7 linked regions of the Homo sapiens genome follow. The protein of the gene in region 1 purifies or fractionates together with the protein of each later gene. This does not show direct contact. Each region holds a gene or a part of one and is shown in the gene's direction. Other genes may lie near its edges. The genes, in order: KDF1, SLC25A13, XRN1, FBLL1, DHX30, ZNF664 and DHX40.

Region 1 (3,500 bases):
TTTTTTTTTTTTTTGAGACAGGGTCTGGCTTTGTTGCCCAGGCTGGAGTGCAATGGCACGATCTCAGCTCACTGCAACCTCCACCTCCAAGGCTCAAGTGGTCCTCCCACCTCAGTCCCCCAGGTAACTAGGACTACAGGTGTGCACCACCACGCCCAGCTAATTTTTGTATTTTCAGTAGGGATGGGCTTTCACCATGTTGGCCAGGCTGGTCTTGAACTCCTGCGCTCAAGTGATCCACCCATCCCAGCCTCCCAAATTGCTGGGATCACAGGCATGAGCCACCGCACCCGGGCTATTTGTCCTTTTGTGTCTGGCTTATTTCACTTAGCATAAGTTCTTCAAGGTTCATCCATGTTGCAGCATGTATAAGAATTTCCTTTCCTTTTTAAGGCTGAGTAATATTCCATTGTATGTATATACCACATTTTGTTTAGTCATTCATCCATTGGTAGACACTGGGATTGTTTCCACCTTTTGGCTATTGTGAATAATGCTGCTGTGAACATTGTCTAAACATCTGAGTCCCTGCTCTCAATTAGATTGGGTATGTACCCAGAAGTGGAATTGCTGGGTCGTGTGGTAATTCGATGTTTAATTTTTGGAGGAACCACCGTACTGTTTTCCATAGCAGCTGCACCATTTTACATTCCCACCAGAAATGCACAAGGGTTCCAGTTTTTCCACATTATTGCCAACACTCATTATTTTCTGGGAGAAGGGAGATTATTTTTAAATACAGATTGAGAGATTGAGTATCCCTAATCCAAAAATCCAAAACACTCCAAAATCTGAAAGTTGAGCACCAGCATGATACTTAAAGGAATGCTCATTGGAGCATTTCAGATTTTTGGATGAGGAATGCTTAACAGGTAAGTATAATGTATACAATCCACAATTCAGAATCCAAAACATTTCTGGACCCAAGCATTTCAGATAAGATGTTCAACCTTTCTTTTTTTCTTTTTCTTTCTTTTTTTTTTTTGAGACACAGTCTCGCCCTGTTGCCCAGGCTGGAGTGCAATGGCGTGATCTTGGCTCACTGCAACCTCTGCCACCCGGGTTCAAGCGATTCTCCTGCCTCAGCCTCCCAAGTAGCTGGGATTACAGGCACCCACCACTATACCTGGCTAATTTTTTTTGTATTTTTAGTAGAGACGGAGTTTCACCATGTTAGTCAGGTTGGTCTCGAACTCCTGACCTCAGGTGATCTGCCTGCCTCGGCCTCCCAAAGTGCTGGGATTACAGGCGTGAGCCACCACGCCCGGCCAATGTTCAACCTTTCATAGCCATCCCAATAGGTCTAAGTCACAGGGAATTTTGAAATCTGGGTTAGACCACAGAGACTTTCTCTTTGTGGAGGGAGGGCCACAAGAGATAAGGGTTTTTGGGCATACTTGGGTCCATCCACATCCCAGGCAAGGGTTTTTGGGCATACTTGGGTCCATCCACATCCCAGGCCTCTCAGAAACTAGAAATGTGAAGCTGCTCAAGTCAGCCCAGGAGTTTGTCCCTCACCTCTGATCCTGACTCCTTCCTGGCCTCTCCCCACGCAGGTGCCTGGCTGCTACAAACCATGCAATGAGCCATGCCCCGCCCTGGACACCCCCGCCCAGCATCTGGGCCTCCACGCTTGGGACCGTGGGAGCGGCCAACAGAGCTATGTCTGGAGACATATGATAAACCACCTCAGCCCCCACCAAGCCGCCGCACCCGTAGACCAGACCCCAAGGACCCTGGCCACCATGGGCCAGAGAGCATTACCTTCATCTCTGGCTCTGCTGAGCCGGCCCTTGAGTCCCCCACCTGCTGCCTGCTCTGGCGACCCTGGGTGTGGGAGTGGTGCCGGGCTGCCTTCTGCTTCCGCCGCTGCCGGGATTGCCTCCAGCGCTGTGGAGCCTGTGTGCGGGGATGCAGCCCCTGCCTGTCTACTGAGGACTCCACTGAGGGGACTGCTGAAGCCAACTGGGCCAAGGAGCACAATGGAGTGCCCCCCAGCCCTGATCGTGCACCCCCCAGCCGGCGGGATGGCCAGCGGCTCAAGTCAACCATGGGCAGCAGCTTCAGCTACCCCGATGTTAAGCTCAAAGGCATCCCTGTGTATCCCTACCCGAGGGCCACCTCCCCAGCCCCTGATGCGGACTCCTGCTGCAAGGAGCCACTGGCCGATCCCCCACCCATGCGACACAGCCTGCCCAGCACCTTTGCCAGTAGTCCTCGTGGCTCCGAGGAGTACTATTCTTTCCATGAGTCGGACCTGGACCTGCCGGAGATGGGCAGTGGCTCCATGTCGAGCCGAGAAATTGATGTGCTCATCTTCAAGAAGCTGACAGAGCTGTTCAGCGTACACCAGATCGATGAGCTGGCCAAGTGCACATCAGACACTGTGTTCCTGGAGAAGACCAGTAAGATCTCGGACCTTATCAGCAGCATCACGCAGGACTACCACCTGGATGAGCAGGATGCTGAGGGCCGCCTGGTACGCGGCATCATTCGCATTAGTACCCGAAAGAGCCGTGCTCGCCCACAGACCTCGGAGGGTCGTTCAACTCGGGCTGCTGCCCCAACCGCTGCTGCCCCTGACAGTGGCCATGAGACCATGGTGGGCTCAGGTCTCAGCCAGGATGGTAGGTGGGGGCCCCATGGGGCTGAGGGGCAGAGTAGGGGAGGCTCTGGCCAGGGGAGGGTTGGAATGGGGTCTTTAGTCACTGTGGGTCTACCCCTCAGCCAGTCCCTGCCTTTCCTCCTCCTTTCTGTCAACTCTTGCATCCCCTCTCCCCAGCTCCCACTCTGGCCCTTCCTGGTGAGGTCCGAGCAAGGCTGAGAGAAGCATGCAGACCCTGGGAGAGCTCTCTGGCCATCGCTGCTGTCCCCAGAAAGGTCAAGGTTCCCTCTGCATTCAACAAGTTTACCCAAAAGGCTCCTCTCCTCTGCTGTCTCCTGCCAGAGTAGCTTCTAGGCCTGGTCTGGTGAACAGGACCTAGGGACCCACATGAATTTGGGCCTCTGACCTGTTCTGGGCTAACCAAAACTCCCACTCATCCATCACTCTGCGCATGCACACGTTGTCTATGTCTCTGTCTTTAAGCATTATTTTTCTAGCCCTGCCCAGGAGTGAGTGGCTCCTCCCTCATCGGGCTGGGAACAGAAGTAGGAAATAGGGTTGAAAGAACGTGCTAATGACCACTGCTTGCCTCACGTTCCCTCCCTAGAGCTGACAGTGCAGATCTCCCAGGAGACGACTGCAGATGCCATCGCCCGGAAGCTGAGGCCTTATGGAGCTCCAGGTGTGGTCTTGACCTAATGAGGGGTGTGGAGGGTGGGGGACTACCCTAGGGGCCCCTCACCTGCTGCTCTCCCAGCTTTCTTTTGGGGTGATGAGGATGACATCAAAAAGGGACGGGGACCTAAGCAGCCACAGACCTGTCTCCATCTAGCAAGCTGGCTTAAAGTGGGTGCAGGTGCCCAGAACAGGCAAGCTGAAAGTGATCAGACCCCAA
Region 2 (3,500 bases), on another chromosome or scaffold:
CTAACTTATTCCAAGAATGTCCCTTATTGAACTGCCTTTGGGCATCACCTTTATCGGTTGATTCTGTTGGCAGCCTGAGTTAAAGGCTGTGCTCCTTGCTTTTTCCCTGGAGCATAGCTATTCCATGTTGCCAGCTGAACACAGAGCCATAGGGGTAGGGTTGGCATTCCCTCTTAAAAGTTGAGGAGCCTGGATAGGAGAGGACTTCACCTCAATGGACTGTTAGGAAATTGGGCTGAGACTCTGGGGACTCAGCAACTGTGAGAATTCCAACACTCACTACACTCACTGTGACAAATTGTTTGAATATTTAAGCAGATTTGGTATTTTCTGGATAGATGTAGCCACAACTAGCAATTAGTTTTCTGATCTGTTTCTTTCTTTGGTCTTTATACTTATTTAAATACAGCTAATTATTCATGACCTTCCTTTAAATAGTTTTAATGGGGAGATGGAGAATCTAGTCTTTGGCTGCTTTTTATTTTGAATTTTGCTATGAAGATTACTAGTTAATGGTTCAAGAAGTGTTTGTTTTCTTTCGTGAATGAACATTAATCTAAAACTCTTAGTATTCTGAGATTATCTCAAAAAGTGTCCATTCTCTTGCTGCCTACGTTTGTAGGAATAATCCTTGTGGGTTCCCTTGTTAGATCTGCCTGTACTGTTTGCGTTGTTTGAATATTTCTTTTAAACATTTCCCAAAACTGCCATAAAAAAACAGTTTTAAAAGGTGGTAATTGAGAGGTCACCCTTTTCTTCGTCTCTGCCCTTTTCTTGGTTAAAGGAGAGCTTTCTTCTTCGTCATTGGTTAAATTTATGCGTTACGAATGATGTAATTAACCTATATGAACCTACTAAAAGTTAGAATATGCTCCCTTGAGTTCAGACCTGTGAGATGTTCTGGGGTAAAACTGAACACAGACCAATATTAGCCTAGAACCAAAAGAAGGAAATTTGGGGGCACATTAAAGCATTAATAATAAAGACAATTTGGTCTGTAGGACTAGTACACTTTGTATTGACTTTTCATTCTTGGATGAGTTGTTGCTGTGATCATTGATTCATTTATGTGTATTGTGTTCTTTCCAGTGTTGCAAATGGGACAAAATTGAGAATACTAAAATGAATTGTTAGCTGGGCATGGTGGCACGCATCTGTGGTCCCGGCTACTTGGGAGGCTAAGGCAGGAGGATCACTTGAGCCCAGAAGGCAGAGGTTGCAGTGAGCTGAGATAGCACCACTGTACTCCAGCTTGGGTTACAGAACGAGATCCTGTCTCAAAAAAAAATAAAATAAAGTAAAATAAAATAATAAAATAAAATAAAATAGAATAAAATAAATAAAATGAATTGGACTCCATTTTGATGTTCAAGAAAACCAAAACCATTCCAGGGGGCTAAGTTCTCTGATGGAAATGCTCCCACTACAAGGTTTGTGGGAGCAGTAGGAGAAGAGCCCATTTCTGAGGAGATGAGGGAAGTCTTCTGAAAATTGCTAGTATTTCAGAAGGAATGGATGGGGAAGAGTAAAGATCCAATCCAGTGGTTGGAAACAAATGAAGGGCTGGGAGGTGAGAGCACAGGCTACATTTAGTTAACAGCAGGTAATAAAAACTAAAAGCAGCTGACACTTACTGAGCGCTTACTAGATACCAAATTCAGTTCCAAATGTGTTTCATTGTTGATTCATTTAAAATTCAGTTCCAACTGTGTTTCGTTGTTGATTCATTTAATGCCTCAGCCTTTTGAGTTAGTTACTATCATCCTTTTTTTATAGATGAAGGCTCTGAGATACCAAGAGGTGATGTTAGTGGCCTAAGATCTGATAAGTATGGCTGGGTACGGTGGCTCACACCTATAATCCCAGCACCTTGGGAGGCCGAGGCAGGTGAATCACCTCAGGTCAGGAATTTGAGACCAGCCTGGCCAGTCTGGCCCATCTCTACTAAAAATAGGAAACAATTAGCCGGGCATAGTGGTGCATTCTTGTAATCTCAGCTGCTCGGGAGGCTGAGGTAGGGGAATTTGCTTCAACCTGGGAGGCGGAGGTTGCAGTGAGCTGACGTCGTGCCATTGCACTCCAGCCTGGGTGACAGAGCAAGACTCTGTCTCAAAAAAATAAAATAAAATAAAAAAGATCGGATAATTAGGAAATTATCGAGCTGGGGTTCAAATCCTGCCAGTCTGGCTCCAGCAGCTGTGGCCTCACTCTGTCCACCATGTGTGCCTGGTAGTTTAGTGTGGTGGAGAATAAAGTATATGGGAGAGGTGTGGGAGATGACTTAGGAGAGGGGTAGGTGTCTCAGTGTAAACCAGACTTTTATTTGAGAACTGCCTTACCTAGTGCTTTTTGCATGCCAGGTACTTTTCCAAGAGCCTTACAAATAGTAACTCAATTAATTTTCTTAATTCTAAGAAGTAGGTGCTTTCTGTTTTTGACTTCAACTTACAGGTGAGAAAACTGAGTTAGGGGAGGTTAAGTAATTTCTCACGCTTGTGCAACAGGTAAGTGCTACAGTCTTGATTTGAACCTTGCCAATGTGTCTTCAGAGTCTCTGCTCTTAACCTCTGCGCTGCTCTCCCAGGTCTTACCAAGAGTTCCATTTGCGAAGGTGTATGTGTGAGAGTTCACATGCCATCGGGTATGGATGTGTATATTTCCTGATCATCCCAGTCCAGTAGTTCTTATCTTAGAACACCTTTGTCACTCTGTATATGCTTCATTTCAGTGTTTATTAAGTGTATTTCTCATCTCTCCAACCAGATCGCAAATCCCTGCAGGACAGGAATTGTCATATACCTTTTATTTAATTGCTTTATTGAGATATAATTCAAGTACTATACAATTTACCCATTTAAAGCATATGATTTATTGGTTTTCAATATATGCACAGAGTTGTGTAACTGTCACCACTGTCATATACCTTTAATCCAGTTTCCATTAGGATTTGGACTATAATATATATATATATATTTGGGACAGGGTCTCACTCTCTCACCCAGGTGGAAGTGCAGTGGTGTGATTATTGCTCACTCTAGCCTAGACCTCGTGGATACAAGAGATCCTCCCACCGCAGCCTCCTGAATAGCTAGGACCTCAGGCACACACCACCACACCCAGCTAATTAAAATTTTTTTTTTTTTTGTAGAGACGGGGGTCTTGCTATGTCGCCCAGGCTTTGGGCTGTATATTTAACCTCCATGTCTTCCACATTGTTCACCCATCATAAAACCCTCTTCAGAGGTTTGTCATTGAGGATAAAATATATTGAGGTTATTAAAGATATTCTTCAAATGGCAGGGTTTTTTCTCCCCTATGTAAAAACTCTACTAAGTATTTGGTGATATCATAATAAAACAAATCAGTTTTTGTGCTAGGAATGGAGGAAAGAAGGTTTGAGTTGTTTTTATGCTACCATGATGATGATTATTAAAACAAATATCTATGGCTCCACTGTTTGGGTTTTAGGGGTTCTTATCTTGTTGGAGCTGGATGGCCTT
Region 3 (3,500 bases), on another chromosome or scaffold:
ACTGGGGCTATCCTGGTCTCCAAAAGAGTCCTGCATTCTTTGGTCATAGAAAAGCTGCTGCCTCTAATTTCTAACCAGTTCCCCCACGGCAAGTAGAAATATGTGAAAACCAAGAGAAGATGTTTGGGATTTGGAGGGATAGGAAGAGGAGAGGGGACAGGGGATAGGGTAATGGTTATGAAAAGCATGTGAGCTAAGGTGAACATATTTTTCTTAGAAAAGTACACTTTATCTCATTCATTACCTACAAATAGATCATATTTTGTTATTTGTATATTTAATGTGCTAATTGTTTCTTATTCTTCCTTGTATAGAATTGTTTTTTAATTGCTTTTGTGAACCTAATATTATTAAAAATGGGAGAATAAAAACATTTCTTAATCATTTTTCAACAGATTATGCTTGGATTAACAAGTCATGAGGCACATTTTTCTCTCTTAAGAGAAGAAGTTCGATTTGGTGGCAAAAAAACACAACGGTAAATTATATAGCATATATGTTGGAAGAAAGAAATTACGCCTGGATAGTAATTCTTTAACAGATACATGTTTGTAAATACTTTATCTCATTCCGTAGGTTGCCTTTTCACTATGTTGATAGTGTCCTTTGATGCACAAACGTTTTTAATTTTGTTATAATCCAACTCATTTATTCTTCTTTTTTTAGGAGTTTTCAAGTTTTAACTTTTATGGTTAGATCTTTGATTCATTTTGAGTTAATTTTAGTGTGTAGTGTAAGGTAAGGGCCCAACTTCATTCTTTTGCATGTGGATATCCAATCTTCCTTGCATTATTTGTTGAAAAGACCAGCCTTAAATGGGCCAGATCTCAGTAGTTTCTTACTTCTACTATATGTTATTTAGGACTTCTTAATTCTGAGAATCCTTCCACAGAACACATAATGTAAACCAATTGTTTTGAACTTTAACATGTATTATCTATTATTGCAATTGTATTTTTATCTTTGTTACCCTGCAACCTTCATATAAATTGTATGCCTTAATTACAAGACCTTACTATCTTCTGATGATACTTTTGATTTAAGCTTTGTTACATTTTTAAGCTGGGACCTTAAAAATAAAATTCACTGTATCTTGATCATCTGACTAATTCCAGGGTATGTGCTCCAGAAGAAACTACATTTCACCTTCTACACTTGTCTTTAATGAGAGAGTATATTGACTATGAGTTTTCAGTATTAAAAGTAAGTATTAATAAAGCCATGGACCAAGGATTTCCATTGCAGAAATTTTCACTGGATTTGACTTTGTTCTCTATTTTACTGTAGGAAAAGATCACATTTAAATATGATATTGAAAGGATAATAGATGATTGGATTTTGATGGGGTTTCTTGTTGGTAATGATTTTATCCCTCATCTACCTCATTTACATATTAATCATGATGCACTGCCTCTTCTTTATGGAACATATGTTACCATCCTGCCAGAACTTGGGGGTAAGAAGAATTTAATAATCTCTCGAGGATACTTTAATTTAGTGCCACCTTACCCTAAAAATGTGACTTAGTTTAGTAGATTATTGCATGCACGCTAAAGCAGAAAAACATTGAGGATTTATTTTGGTCTAAGGTGCTAACCTCTGAGGTTGTCATTTTCAGTGATTCACAAGGAAAGAAAGTGAACAGAGTTAACGAACCTCAATTATTGATATCTAACTAATCTTTGCCTTTTTTTTATTATTTATTTATTTTTTGAGACGGGGTCTTGCTCTGTTGCCCAGGCTGGAGTGCAGTGGCGACAGTGCAACGTTTGCCTTCTGGATTCAAGCTATGCCCATGCCTCTGCCTCCTGAGTAGCTGGGATTACAGGCATGTGTCACCATGCCCAGCTAAGTTCTATATTTTTAGTGGAGATGGGGTTTTACCATATTGACCAGGCTGGTCTCAAACTTCGGCCTCAAGTGATCTGGCTTCCCAAAGTGCTGGGATTACAGGCATGAGCCACCACACCCGGTCTAATCTTTGCCTTTAATTCCTTAAGAAAGCCAGCATACTTTATTGGTTTTACTTTTTTCATATTTAAGCATAGAAATTCAATTTTTTTCGAATGGATATGCATCACAGTGTTTATTATGAAGCAGTGATTTTTCAATGAAAACAGAAAATTGACAAACATAGTGATGCCAAATAAAACAGACCACAGGGTAGCAGAACATCAGTCCTTAAGTTAACATATCATATTAAATGATCTAGATAGATTATAGACCATATTTAATTTAATTAATTGTTACCAAATGTTGGATTATTATGTGGAACCTGGAATTTCTTATATTTGGCTTTGGTGCTTACATGTTGCATATTATAGTAGCATAAAATTCACAGAAACTAGGGCCAGTTTGGATATAGTCCAACACTGTTTTTTCTTGATTAGTACTGTAGAACATGAACATTCAACATTTTGTAGAAAGAGTTTTGTAGAATTGTTTAGAAAAAATGTCAGCTTTTAGTACAGATTTAAATTTTTGTTTCTTTTAGGTTATATTAATGAAAGTGGGCACCTCAACTTACCTCGATTTGAGAAATACCTTGTGAAACTATCAGATGTAAGTAACTAGAAATTTTTGGTTTCCTGTCGCAGAGTAGCTGTAAATGATCAGTCACCAATTATGTAATACCAGAAGAAAGGGGTTTTATAATTCTATTCCAATTGCTTATTCAATATAAACACTTTTACCTAAATTAATTTTATTTTTATTTGCTTTCTATTTGTATTTTTAGAGTAACACATGAGGTCTCCCATATATATAAAAGAGTAACATTCTCCAATTTCCTATACCCCAGTAGTAGTCACTGTTTTAAGTTTGATTTGTATTCTTCTAGATATACTTAAATTATTTAAAAATAAATTTAAATATTTCTGTACAGTTTGATCGGGAGCACTTCAGTGAAGTTTTTGTGGACCTAAAATGGTTTGAAAGCAAAGTTGGTAACAAGTACCTCAATGAAGCAGCAGGTGTCGCAGCAGAAGAAGCCAGGAACTACAAGGAAAAGAAAAAGTTAAAGGTGTCTATTTTTTTAGGTGTCCTTTCATTGTTTTAACTGTAAAGGCAAAAATTATATTCTTTGTTTCTCATTTTCCTTCTTATGATTTGGGATTGCCTCGTTTTATTTCTCTTCCTCTCTATAGGCATTTCAGAAATTGATTTGGTTTCTTTTTTTCTATTAGCTTCTGTCATTTAATGAGATCTTCAATAATCAGTTCCTTATTTTTACTGTTGAAGAGGTACATTGTGTTTTATGTTAATAAATGTGGAAAACATTTCTAAACATAAAAGCCCAGAAAATGAATTATTTTCTGGGCTTTTTAAAAAAATTACTTAAAACATGTTATTAAAAACAATTATTTAAGGCCAGGTGCAGTGGCTCACACCTGTAATCCCAGCACTTTGGGAGGCAAAATGGGTGGATTACCTGAGGTCAGGAGTTTGAGACCAGCCTGGCCAACGTGGCGAAACCCCATCTCTACTAAAAAAACAGAAAT
Region 4 (3,292 bases), on another chromosome or scaffold:
CTCTATTATTCAAGGTTCTCCAAAGACACAGGCCTGTAGGATATATATATGTGTGTATATATAGGATATATATTGGCTCATGTGATTGTGGAGACCAGCAGGTCCAAAATCCGCAGGGCCAATGTCCCAGTCCAAAGGTTGTCAGGCAGAAAGAGCTGATGTGCCAGTTGAAAGGCCCTTGGGCAGGAGAATTCTCTCTTCCGTGGGGAAGGTCAGCATTTTGCTTTATTTCTGCCTTCAACTGATTAGATGAGGCCCAGCCACATCGTAGACGGCAATCAGCTTTACTCAATATACCAATTTAAATGTTAATCTCATCAAAAAACACCCTCACAGAAACACTCAGAATACTATTTGACCAAATATCTGGGCATCCCATGGCCCAGTAAAGTTGACACATAAAATTAACCCTCACAGACACCAAGTGTAGTTCATCATTTTGGAAAATATTCACCTTATAGCAAGAATGGAAACCTCTAAGTAGAGTATTTTATGTGAACCATTCAACCTCAGGAATCATACATTTCACTCACTGATCCCTTGTTCACATTCCAGTGTATAAAACTCTGGTCCCCATTAAGGAGACACTCCAGTCCTCAGGGAAAATCAGACCTGGCACTGTCGTCCATGAGTATGAGACGGGAAGAGCTGTGGTCCAGGATGGAACGGAAGTCATACTGCACATACCAGGTGTTCAGTAAATGCTCCGATCTTCAGGTGCGCGTTGTCTCTCTCTCTCTCTCTCTCGAGTAGACACTTAATTCAACTAACGGGAGGCTGGCCAGTTGTTTCACCACCTATCCTACTTTCCCCAGCTCTTGTGTGGTTCCCAAAGCCCCTAGCAGTAGCCAAAACGGGGGCCCCAACTGCTGTCGCTGTCCCTGGTGCTGACTAAACCCTAAAGCCTCTGCGTTGCGGCCTTGGGGCCATTGGTGGTGCCGAGTTATTCTTTTATTTTCTTTCTGTTCTTTTCTTTTTTTCTTTTCTTCTCGTTGCTGCCCTTGGTGCTGCCCAATTATTCTTTTCTTTTCTTCTCCTCTCCCTCTCTCTCTTTTCTTTCTCTCTCTTTCTTTCTTTTTCTCTTTTTCTTTCTTTCCTCAAGAAAATGCTGCAGATTTAGAGAGTGACTTTGAAGCATAGACTAGACTTCGAGGATGAACATGACATTTTGGCTCTCTGTGTATCCCCATTCACACTGAAGAATCAACAACACTTCCTTGCTGATCAATAGTCCCAGAACTGGTGGCACAGCCAGGACCGACGCTGATGCTTACCTCCCCCTCTCCTGCAGCAGAGACGCCCCCGTCCCTGTGGCCCAGGGAAGTGCCAGGGATCCCTGGGAAGGCGGGAGATGGGGAAGGGGCAGGGTGAGCGAAGAGGAGCAGGCTGCGTCTGCACGCGGGCTGGGAAGCGGGGCTTCCGGGCCGCAGGGTCGCGGGGACGGGTGTGATGCAATCGCGCCACAGCCGCTGCGTCAAGGGGCGGCTCCGGGATGCGGGCACTGCGGTAGAGCCCGTCCTGCCCCCGCCGCCCGCCGCCCGCCGCCCGCCTCCGCTGCTAAACCCGCGGACAACCGCCGGGACGACCACCCAGAGCCACCAGAGCCCCCTGACACCCGCCCCGAGGCACCGGTAACCCACGGCACCCGCCCCGGTGCGTGCCATGAAGTCGGCCGCGAGCTCGCGCGGGGGCGGTGGGGGCGGCCGCGGGGGCGGCGGCTGGGGCAGCTGGGGCGGGGGCCGAGGCGGCGGCGGCGGCGCGGGCAAGGGCGGCGGGGGCGACGGCGGCGGCCAGGGGGGCAAGGGCGGCTTCGGGGCGCGGGCGCGCGGCTTCGGCGGGGGCGGCCGGGGCCGGGGGCGCGGCGGCGGCGACGGCAAGGATCGCGGCGGCGGTGGACAGCGGCGGGGCGGCGTGGCCAAGAGCAAGAGCCGCCGCAGGAAGGGCGCCATGGTGGTGTCGGTGGAGCCGCACCGGCACGAGGGCGTCTTCATCTACCGCGGGGCGGAGGACGCGCTGGTCACGCTGAACATGGTGCCGGGCCAGTCTGTGTACGGCGAGAGGCGCGTCACGGTGACCGAGGGCGGCGTGAAGCAGGAGTACCGCACGTGGAACCCGTTCCGCTCTAAGCTGGCCGCGGCCATCCTGGGCGGGGTGGACCAGATCCACATCAAGCCCAAGTCCAAGGTGCTGTACCTGGGCGCCGCGTCGGGCACCACCGTCTCCCATGTCTCCGACATCATTGGCCCAGACGGCCTGGTCTACGCCGTCGAGTTCTCCCACCGCGCCGGCCGCGATCTGGTCAACGTGGCCAAGAAGCGCACCAACATCATTCCGGTCCTGGAGGACGCGCGGCACCCGCTCAAGTACCGCATGCTCATCGGGATGGTGGACGTGATCTTCGCCGACGTGGCCCAGCCGGACCAGTCCCGCATCGTGGCCCTGAACGCCCACACCTTCCTGCGCAATGGGGGCCACTTTCTCATCTCCATCAAGGCCAACTGCATCGACTCCACCGCATCCGCCGAGGCTGTGTTTGCTTCTGAGGTGAGGAAGTTGCAGCAGGAGAACTTGAAGCCTCAAGAGCAGCTGACCCTGGAGCCCTATGAGCGGGACCACGCTGTGGTGGTCGGGGTCTACCGACCTCTTCCCAAGAGCAGCAGCAAATAGCACCCAGCTCAGGCTCGCCTGCCATCTCCCCAAGGCTGCGTTGTGTTTGCTATTATTTTCTGTGTGTTTTCTTTGTGAGTGTTTTGTTTTGTTGTTTTTCTATTAAACTGCATAAAGAAACGGCACCTATCTGTATGGTGATGCCAGGCTAGGTTTTGCTGCAGTAACAATCAACCCCCAAATCCCAGTGGCCTAAACCGGCTGGTATAAGGGGCCCATCCAGCAGTAGCCTGGGAGCTGTGCTCATTCTAATCACTCAGGTCTCCAACTCCCCAGGGCCCCATTTTCACACATGCTCCCCCCATCCCTAGGGCAGAGGAAAGAGAGCTGCGGAATTGCTAATAAAAGCTTTTAAATGTCCCCTTGGAACTGATGGGGCACTTCTGCTCACATTTGGCCAAGTCACATGACCCAGCCTGACTCGGGAAAAACACTGAATGTTGGTGGACAATAATATAGTCAAACACACCAATCATCTGACTCACAGCCAAAGTCTTAACCACAATAGGTTTTTAGTATTTTACTCTTCAACTAAGCCCTTTTGCATTCACTGTTAAAGTGAATAATAAATAAATGTTAAATTTATTCCTCACACCAGCCCTGAGATGGCTTTGTTAGCACTTGC
Region 5 (3,500 bases), on another chromosome or scaffold:
ATGACCCAGCAGGATTCCCACGCTCCACTCAGGGACTCAAGGTACAGATGGAGGATGGGGATGCAGCAGAGGCTGGCTGTGCCTTGACACGGGGATGGGCGAATGTTCTCTGCTAGCTTTCTCTGAGATGGGAGCGCCCCTGCCTCACATTTCAGCCTGTGTGCCCCATCACTCAGTGTGTGTCTGCCCATTCTTGGGGGACAGCCAGCTGTGGTCTTCTATGTGGCTGGGCTTTTGCAGAACAGCAGCATGGAGCCCCTGCTCTCTGCTATCTTATCTGTGTGAGGGAATGGAGGGAGCAGTCCCCATGCAGTGTGGCTGTGGGAGGAGCAGAGACGCCCGGTTTCCCATCCATTTCATGCCTTCTGCCCTTCTGGCTCCCTGCTGCAGCGCAGCGTCCTCACCCCTACATCGCAGAGCCTCAGGGAAATTGGTCCAGGAAGAGAGAATTCTTTCAGTTAAACTTTTGGTCCTCCCAGGGGGAGTTCCTTTGAGATGACAGATGACGACAGTGCCATTAGGGCTCTGACCCAGTTTCCACTTCCCAAGAACCTTCTGGCCAAGGTGATTCAGATTGCAACGTCATCCTCCACAGCTAAGGTGAGTTGGGTCTCCTAGAAGTTTGTGTGGGGGCCGTTTACTTGGTCATGTCTGGTGTTCCCTAAAGGCAGGTTTAGAGAGGGCTGAGGGGGTGTGTTCCTCCAGCCCAAACCTAGGCCAGGTGGAGGAACTCCTGCTTGGGAGGAAAAGCAGCAGGTGTGATGGAATGGAGGTCAAGCCTCAGCAGCACAGGGAGTGGGCTTGGGGGCCGCAAGAGCAGAAGACCCATACCTCTTCTGGGCGGTGGATTGTCAGTGGGGAAGGGTTAGAGGTGTGGGTCTTGGTGAGGTATGAATTTCTCTCTTGCTGCCAGGCGAAGGGGCTTTGGTCATGAAATGCCTAACCTTGTTTTTACTTTAACTCGTTGCTTTGAATTTTGTCCTGCTTGTCTCTTTAATCACCTAGCCTTGCTTCTCATGTAAAATAAGACTCTCTCTAGCTAAGAAAGCCGTACAAACCCCAATTGACCCCTTAATTTACAAGACACTAAGGGCTCCTCACCCAACCCCCTTTCGTAAGGAGTTGGCCTGGGTAAACAGATCCTCAGCATTTCAAAGGAGCCTAATTAACTGATAAGGTACGAACACCAACAATATATGAAGTTCCCAGGAATTTTCTCCAAGAGATAACAACATAAAACCTTGAGTTCGTGTCTGGCGTAGACCCTATATCTAATTATAATGAAAGATTTAGAATCTTGCACCTGGTACTGTTGCTCTTCTTGTAACCATTTGTCTTTTAAGTTGTTTATCACTCTGTAACCATTTTGATTCTTTTGATTCTTGCATGTTTTTACTTCTGTAGAATTATTACATTTAAGTCCCCCTCCCCTTCCTAAACCTAAGTATAAAAGTTAATCGAGCCCCTTCCTCGTGGCCGAAAGAATTTTGAGCATTAGCTGTCTCTTTGGCCGCCGGCTTAATAAAGGACTCTTAATTCGTCTCAAAGTGTGGCGTTTCCTTAACTCGCCTAAGTACAACAGTTAAGCAGAGCTTCTGTCCAGGTGCAGGGTCTTTTTGCTCCCGCAGGATGTGCCTGGTTTTTAGCTCATGCTGACAGCTTCAACCCACAGCTGCCACGATGTTGCCGAGATGACAGTGGGCTAGGAGGGCAGGTGATGGCATTGCCCAAGCACTGTCTTCTGCAGTGGAAGTCGAGGTATAGCAGGAGAAGCGAGCCTGGGACTAGGGTGCCTGAGCCCATGGGCCTGCTCCTGGCTATGCAGCAGCACCTCTAGCATGGCTCACGCCTGGCACCTGCTGAGATGGTGGCTCATTCTGTCTCTGGGCTCCTTGGCATTCTGAGAATGCCCCAAGTCTCTTCCCATTCCCTACATTTCTGTAACCATCTCTCTTGCCTTCCATGTAGAACCTCATGCAGTTCCATACTGTGGGCACCAAGACCAAGCTGTCTACACTCACCCTGCTCTGGCCCTGCCCCATGACCTTTGTTGCCAAAGGGCGCCGCAAAGCAGAGGCTGAGAATAAGGCGGCAGCCTTGGCCTGCAAGAAACTGAAGGTGAGTCCAGGAAGGTCCTGGGTGTGGTGCATGAGAATGTCTTGAAGCTCCCCTCTGCCAGTGGCAAATGGGTCCCATTTTCTAGGAAATGAAACCACCACAGCAGGCCTTTTGCCTGGCACAAAGACAGCTGGTATGCAGGCCTCGCTTGTAGGCCCTGTGGCTGTTGCCATGGCTTTTCCAGAGGCCCTGTGGAGATACTTTGCCCGTGACCCAGCATTTTCCACACTGTTGGCCTGAACCTGGTGAGGCCGGGAGGAAACTTGCTCATTGTTCTGAATAGTATAAAGCCGGGAGGAGCCGGGCCTGTTTTGAGAGGCAGACCTGGTGTCCAGTATGATCCTGATAACCCGGGTTTTGTGGGCAGAATGAATAATGTGACTTGTGACTGCAGTGATGATTGAGGAAGCAGTCAGGATCAAGGTAGAGACAGTGTGGCAGACAGCTGGCAGTTCTCTTTTTTTTGAGACAGGGTCTCTGTGGCCCAGGCTGGAGTATAGTGGCACGATCATGGCTCACTGCAGCCTCGATCTCCTAGGCTTAAGCGATCCTTTCACCTCAGCCTCCTGCATAGCTGGGACCATAGGTATGCACCACCACTCCCAGCTTATTTTTAAACATTTTTTGTAGAGACAAGGGTCTCACTGTGTTGCGAAGACTGGTCTTAAAATCTTGGGCTCAATCAGTCTTTCTACCTTCACTTCCTAAAGTGTTGGGATTGCAGGCGTGAGCCACCGCTCCTGGCCATGGCCGTTCTCTTGAAAGGGGCTGGTGGAGTTAGCTGATGGCACAGTAGTGGGAGGGAGTTGGGATTGTCTCTGACTGCCTGAGGAGTTAGTAATCTCAACCCATGTTGGTGGAGGTTTAGTTTGCAGACCAAGATAGAAATGGGCCTGCTTTACTCTGAATGGTCAGGTGCACCATTTCATGGGTACAGTTGGCTCTGGGAACCATGTTTTAGTTACAGCTGATGGTGAGAGGTAACAAGAACCTGGAGAAAGACGAGGAAGAGGGGACAGGCAATTGGTGAGATAAAGAGGGCACAGATATGCTACCTGTGACTCGAGGGCAGAACAAGGACTGAGTAGAACTGGAGGCATCTGAGCTTTGGCCTGATGCACACGCACTGTGAGCAGAAGCACCTTGGCATGGTAGGGGCCTGTCTGGGAAGGAGCAAGCTTTGCAGTGGCTGGAGGGCCATTTGTCAGTGAGGCTGGTGGGTAAAACCCATGAAGTCTGGGGAGAGGGCAGAAGCCTGTTCCTGCAGCAAGGAGCTTGTGTTGGCACCTCCTGTGGTATGAGGACCAGATTCCTGTCCTTTAGGTCCTTATAGCTGATGGTGCCAGCACGCCCAGAGGCAGGGGGTTGGCCCCTGTTGGGGG
Region 6 (2,356 bases), on another chromosome or scaffold:
GGACAGCTGGTTTTCATACTCACATGTAGGTCTTTTTGAGGATTTCTTTTCTCTTTCAATAATGTTCCCCTTGATGTTGCTCAGATAATTACAATGAGTTATTGTAATTGGATTATATACTTGAGCTGTAAACAGGAGCATGATATCTACAAATTCTCTCCTTCAGACCTGCAAATCCAAGAGACACATCTTTGGAAGATAAGAGAGCTTCTTCAAGACCAAAAAAGGTTTGTGTTACTGCTGTCACATTTATATAAAATTAATTTTGGAATCAATAGCAGTTTTCCAGATAAAAGCATTTTCAATTTATTTATTTATGTTTCTATTACAGGAGACGGCATGATACCCATGTAGGGAATTCCCCAAAGCAGGGCTTGCCATACCTGGACCCCGAGGAGCCTGCTTGCTGGAAAGGCTTTCCTGTCTGATGTGCAGGAGGCAGAATGCCAAACTGACTCTTCAAGGGGCAACTGCAGGGGCTCGAGACCAGCCAGCAGTATCTCATCCTTCGATACAGGGGATATACTGTACAGTCCTTTTTCTAGAAGTGAGACATACAAGATTACTCTACAAGAGGAAGATTCCAGGGGCTCAAAAACGCAAAGGTTTGCACTTTGAGAGCCCCTTGGAATGTTGACAACTCAGGATCTAAAACAAAGTTCTGTGTTAATGAGTTACAGAATTCACGTGGAAGTCAATGTCACTTTATAATCGATAATAATACTGAGTGAGGAACACTATGCAGGAAGAAACCTTCCGTAGAAAGACAGGCAGGGAAAAGCTTAGGCTGACCTTAAACTTACCTAATAGAGCAAGCCTGAGATAGACTGCCAAAATGGCCAAATAAGAGACTCTATGAAATAACAGTCTTGTAACTGTAGTAATCATAAGGAAATTTTCTCCTTGAAATCACGATACCAAATAGGAAAAATGATCTACAAGTGCCCCATGTGTAGGGAATTTTTCTCTGAGAGAGCAGATCTTTTTATGCATCAGAAAATTCACACAGCTGAGAAGCCCCATAAATGTGACAAGTGTGATAAGGGTTTCTTTCATATATCAGAACTTCATATTCATTGGAGAGACCATACAGGAGAGAAGGTCTATAAATGTGATGATTGTGGTAAGGATTTTAGCACTACAACAAAACTTAATAGACATAAGAAAATCCACACAGTGGAGAAGCCCTATAAATGTTACGAGTGTGGCAAAGCCTTCAATTGGAGCTCCCATCTTCAAATTCATATGAGAGTTCATACAGGTGAGAAACCGTATGTCTGTAGTGAGTGTGGAAGGGGCTTTAGTAATAGTTCAAACCTTTGCATGCATCAGAGAGTCCACACCGGAGAGAAGCCCTTTAAATGTGAAGAGTGTGGGAAGGCCTTCAGGCACACCTCCAGCCTCTGCATGCATCAAAGAGTCCACACAGGAGAGAAACCCTATAAATGTTATGAGTGTGGGAAGGCGTTCAGTCAGAGTTCGAGCCTCTGCATCCACCAGAGAGTCCACACTGGAGAGAAACCCTATAGATGTTGTGGATGTGGGAAGGCCTTCAGTCAGAGTTCGAGCCTGTGCATCCACCAGAGAGTCCACACAGGAGAGAAACCTTTCAAATGTGATGAGTGCGGAAAGGCCTTCAGTCAGAGTACGAGCCTCTGCATCCACCAGAGAGTCCACACAAAGGAGAGAAACCATCTCAAAATATCAGTTATATAAAACGTTTTGCTAAGAGTTTAAAATCTTAAAACCCATAAGTGCCACTAGGAAGGAAACCCTGTATATACCTACATTGACCCAAGAAATATTTACGCAATCCCTAGCAGAACATTGTTTCTGAGGAGGCATATGTGAGATTGATTTGTTGGTTCATGCCAAGTGTGTTCCACAGGTTGACTTTGAATGTGGACCTCTGAGCATCCACGCAGGATGGCTCTCAGGTCCCAGTCACAGACGTCGCTTCCTGGGATTCCAGCACGATGCCTCCATAGTTGAAAGACTACACAAAAAGCCACAATCATTGCCCGGCCTCCTGAGTCACCTTCTATCTATACTTTGCTTAAAAGCTATCCCAGATACTCCCCCTTGAGGAGCTCATGCCCTTCCTTCCTCTTTATTCGAGCATACTGGCAATGCATTGGAAAACAGACAGCTCCCACTAAGATCACGTTCTGGTATTTCTGAGGTTAACACTTGATTTAGCCCCTACATATCTTTCCATATATCCTATTATTTCTGAATATATGTCCTCAAAATCCCCATAAATATCCATCCCTTCCTAGATGGCATTAACTTTCATTTTAGATTTTAGGTGACTCATAATTCCCATTCACTTAGCCTATCAGAAAAGTCATTGGCA
Region 7 (3,500 bases), on another chromosome or scaffold:
AGCAGTTATGACAATATACTGTAGTAAAACTTTTGTAAATGTGGTCTCTCTCTGTCTCTCAAAGTACTGTAACATTTTTGGACCTCCACTGACTGTAGGTAACTGAAAAATTGGAAAGCAAAACCAAAGGTAAAGAGGGACTACTGTATTAGTAAGAATGGAAATGCGCCATCGATTTTAAGATGCAGCTCCATTCCCAAATATATTAAAATGGTATATGGAAGGTGCATATATATATATATATAAATATAGATATATATATTTATTTATTTTTTTGAGATGAGATCTTACTATGTCGCCCAGGCTGATCTCAAACTCCTGAGTTCAAGCAATCCTCCTACCTCAACCTTCTGAGTAGCCAGGCTCCTGAGTAGCTGGGATTACAGGTGTGTACCACTGCTCCCAGCAGAAAGGTGGCATATTTAAGTCCAGTTTTAGGCTGGGTGCAGTGGCTCATGCCTGTGATCCCAGCACATTGGGAGGCTGAGGCAGATGGATCACTTGAGGTCAGAAGTTTGCGACCAGCCTGGCCAACATGGTGAAACCCCATCTCTACTAAAAATACAAAATTAGCTGGGTGTGGTGGCGCGCACCTGTAATCCCAGTTACTCAGGCGGCTGAGGCAGGAGAATTGCTTGAACCCAGGAGGTAGAGGTTGCAGTGAGCCGAGATTGTGCCACTGCACTCCCGCCTGGGCAACAGAGCAAGACTCTATCTCAAAAATAAATAAATAAATAAATAAATAAATAAATAAATAAATCCAGTTTTACTCTTGTGGCAAAAGTAAATTTATTTTGGGAAGTGTGTGGAATTTTATGAATTCTTATGTTTCAAAATTCTTGGCTTACCTTTAGAGTAGATTTTTAGACAGAAAAAAACAGACAAAGCCTGAATTCTAATTTAAAAAATATATTTTTTACAAAAAAATTAGCTGGGCCTGGTGGCAAGCGCCTGTAATCCCAGCTGCTCAGGTGGCTGAGGCAGGAGAATCGCTTGAACCCAGGAAGTGAAAGTTGCAGTGAGCCGAGATCGCGCCACTGCATTCCAGCCTGGGCAACAGAGCAATACTCCGTCTCAAAAAAGAAAAAAATATATATATATCTATATATATATATAGATATATATATAATTTTTTCTTTCTTTTTTTTTGTTTTGGCTGGGCGTGGTGTCTCAAGCCTATAATCCCAGTACTTTGGGAGGCAGAGGCAAGTGGATCACCTGAGGTTGGGAGTACAAGACCAGCCTGACCAACAGGGAAAAAACCCGTCTCTGCTAAAATACAAAATTAGCCCGGCATGGTGGCACATGCCTGTTATCCCAGCTACTCGGGAGGCTGAGGCAGGAGAGTTGCTTGAACCTGGGACGCAGAGGTTGCGGTGAGCCGAGATTGCGCCATTGCACTACAGCCTAGGCAACAAGAGCAAAACTCTGTCTAAATATATATAATATACATTATATTATAATGTATATTTATATATAATATATAGTATATATTATAATATATTATAATGTATATTTATATATAATATATTATAAATTATATAATACATATAATATGTTATATATTAATATATATAATATATAATATATTATAATATATATTATATATTAAATATATATTAGTATATAATATATATAATATATAAATATATATAATATAAACTGGATTTATATTATATATATTTATATATTATATATATAATATATTTTTGCATGGTTATTAATATGTATTATTTTAAATTAATATTTAAATTTCCATGATGCAAACATAGCAGTGTGTTTTTAATTTGCGAGATATTCTTTTGGAAACATTCAAGCAGTTTTGTGTTGATTGGCCAAAAACAATTTAGCTCTAATAGGAAGACAATTGCTAACATTGTTGTGTTTCTTTATCTCTGGTTTTGATAGGGTTTTCACAACATGGTATGATTGGTGTAACTCAACCACGAAAAGTAGCTGCTATATCAGTTGCTCAGAGAGTAGCTGAAGAAATGAAATGCACTTTGGGATCCAAAGTAGGATACCAAGTTCGTTTTGATGATTGCAGTTCTAAGGTACAAAAGTCTTGTTGGTATTTGTTTCTTTTCTTTTATGGGACAGGGTCTTGCTCTGTCGCCCAGCCTGGAGTGCGTGGCGCAATCATGGCTCTCTGTAGCCTCTACCTTCTGGGCTCAAGTGATCTCCTACCTCAGCCCCTTGGGTAGCTGGGACTACAGGAGCATGCCACCATGCCCAGCTAATGTTATAAACTTAACAGAAAGAGTGGAGAGAGTTCTGAAAGATTTTTAACTTCAAAGTTCAATATATATTTTAAAGAATTTATTTTTGTTGTTCATTGTTAATGCTTTAGCTCTCAAGTGTCTGATGTTCATCCCATTTTCTCCTTCCTTAGTTTATAAATGACAGTTTATTTTCTTAGGATTCTCTTATTTATGTTTTTTAACTGTAAGGATTCTTGACATGTAGGTTTTTAAAATGTTTTATTGTAGTAAAATATATATAACTTAAAATCGACCATTTTACTATTTTGGTATACAATTCAGTGCCATTAAGTATGTTCACAATGGGCTGGGCTCGATGGCTCACGTCTGTAATCCCATCACTTTGGGAGGCCGAGGCGGGTGGATCACCTGAGGTCAGGAGTTCGAGACCAGCCTGACCAACATGGAGAAACCCTGTCTCTTTTAAAAATACAAAATTAGCTGGGCACGGTGGTGCATGCCTGTAATCCCAGCTACTCAGGAGGCTGAGGCAGGAAAATGGCTTGAACCCGGGAGGCGGAGGTTGCGGTGAGCTGAGATCGCGCCACTGCACTCCAGCCTGGGCAACAAGAGCAAAACTCCACCTCAAAAAAAAAAAAAAAATGTGTTCACAATGTTGGGTAACCATCACCATTTCTACTTTCAGAACTTTTTTTATCATCCCAAACAGAAACTCTTATAGATTAAAACCCCCATTTCTCCCTCCCCCTAGCCTCTGGTAACTTCTTTTTTTTTTTTGAGACGAAGTCTCACACCATTGCCCGGGCTGGAGTGCAGTGGCGCAACCTCCACTCCCTGCAACCTCTGCCTCCCAGGTTCTAGTGATTCTCCTGCCTCAGCCTCCCAAGTAGCTGGGTTTACAGGCTCCTGCCACCACGCCCAGCTAATTTTTTGTATTTTTAGTAGAGATGGGGTTGGTCTCAAATTCCTGACCTTGTGATCTGCCCACCTCGGCCTCCCAAAGTGCTGGGATTACAGGGTAAACCACCGCGCCCTGCTGTATCTTCTGTTCTACTTTCTGTCTCTACAAATTTGCCTACTCCGGGTACCTCATTCAAGTGGAATCACACAATATTTTGTACTTCGTGTCACTCTTATTTCACTGAGCATGTTTTCAGGTTGATTTATTTTATGTGTTTGTATTCTTGAAGTCAATGGAAAGCTGAATTAACAAAATCAGCCAATTAACAAAATCAGCAAGTGTTAAAGCATCTTCTATATTCATGGCACCAACAAATT

What was found.
Region 2: the proteins of KDF1 (region 1) and SLC25A13 purify together in Homo sapiens (affinity purification with mass spectrometry, with the first as the bait; one large-scale study listed by BioGRID). This does not show direct contact.
Region 3: the proteins of KDF1 (region 1) and XRN1 purify together in Homo sapiens (affinity purification with mass spectrometry, with the first as the bait; one large-scale study listed by BioGRID). This does not show direct contact.
Region 4: the proteins of KDF1 (region 1) and FBLL1 purify together in Homo sapiens (affinity purification with mass spectrometry, with the first as the bait; one large-scale study listed by BioGRID). This does not show direct contact.
Region 5: the proteins of KDF1 (region 1) and DHX30 purify together in Homo sapiens (affinity purification with mass spectrometry, with the first as the bait; one large-scale study listed by BioGRID). This does not show direct contact.
Region 6: the proteins of KDF1 (region 1) and ZNF664 purify together in Homo sapiens (affinity purification with mass spectrometry, with the first as the bait; one large-scale study listed by BioGRID). This does not show direct contact.
Region 7: the proteins of KDF1 (region 1) and DHX40 purify together in Homo sapiens (affinity purification with mass spectrometry, with the first as the bait; one large-scale study listed by BioGRID). This does not show direct contact.

The regions. Positions count from the first base shown.
Region 1 is NC_000001.11:26,950,469-26,953,968, reverse strand, and holds part of KDF1 (keratinocyte differentiation factor 1), read left to right. Parts: intron 1-15; exon of another isoform or gene 16-123; intron 124-1,556; 5' UTR 1,557-1,588; coding exon 1,589-2,627; intron 2,628-3,212; coding exon 3,213-3,287; intron 3,288-3,500. UniProt on the Homo sapiens protein: Plays a role in the regulation of the epidermis formation during early development. Required both as an inhibitor of basal cell proliferation and a promoter of differentiation of basal progenitor cell progeny.
Region 2 is NC_000007.14:96,315,599-96,319,098, reverse strand, and holds part of SLC25A13 (electrogenic aspartate/glutamate antiporter SLC25A13, mitochondrial), read left to right. Parts: intron 1-3,500. UniProt on the Homo sapiens protein: Mitochondrial electrogenic aspartate/glutamate antiporter that favors efflux of aspartate and entry of glutamate and proton within the mitochondria as part of the malate-aspartate shuttle.
Region 3 is NC_000003.12:142,420,538-142,424,037, reverse strand, and holds part of XRN1 (5'-3' exoribonuclease 1), read left to right. Parts: intron 1-395; coding exon 396-478; intron 479-1,115; coding exon 1,116-1,203; intron 1,204-1,287; coding exon 1,288-1,456; intron 1,457-2,494; coding exon 2,495-2,562; intron 2,563-2,884; coding exon 2,885-3,022; intron 3,023-3,500. UniProt on the Homo sapiens protein: Major 5'-3' exoribonuclease involved in mRNA decay. Required for the 5'-3'-processing of the G4 tetraplex-containing DNA and RNA substrates. The kinetic of hydrolysis is faster for G4 RNA tetraplex than for G4 DNA tetraplex and monomeric RNA tetraplex.
Region 4 is NC_000005.10:168,527,843-168,531,134, forward strand, and holds FBLL1 (RNA 2'-O-methyltransferase FBLL1), read left to right. Parts: upstream 1-1,462; 5' UTR 1,463-1,662; coding exon 1,663-2,667; 3' UTR 2,668-2,792; downstream 2,793-3,292.
Region 5 is NC_000003.12:47,841,138-47,844,637, forward strand, and holds part of DHX30 (ATP-dependent RNA helicase DHX30), read left to right. Parts: coding exon 1-41; intron 42-479; coding exon 480-600; intron 601-1,968; coding exon 1,969-2,118; intron 2,119-3,500.
Region 6 is NC_000012.12:124,011,215-124,013,570, forward strand, and holds part of ZNF664 (zinc finger protein 664), read left to right. Parts: intron 1-166; 5' UTR 167-227; intron 228-331; 5' UTR 332-930; coding exon 931-1,716; 3' UTR 1,717-2,356. UniProt on the Homo sapiens protein: May be involved in transcriptional regulation.
Region 7 is NC_000017.11:59,568,610-59,572,109, forward strand, and holds part of DHX40 (probable ATP-dependent RNA helicase DHX40), read left to right. Parts: intron 1-1,908; coding exon 1,909-2,054; intron 2,055-3,500. UniProt on the Homo sapiens protein: Probable ATP-dependent RNA helicase.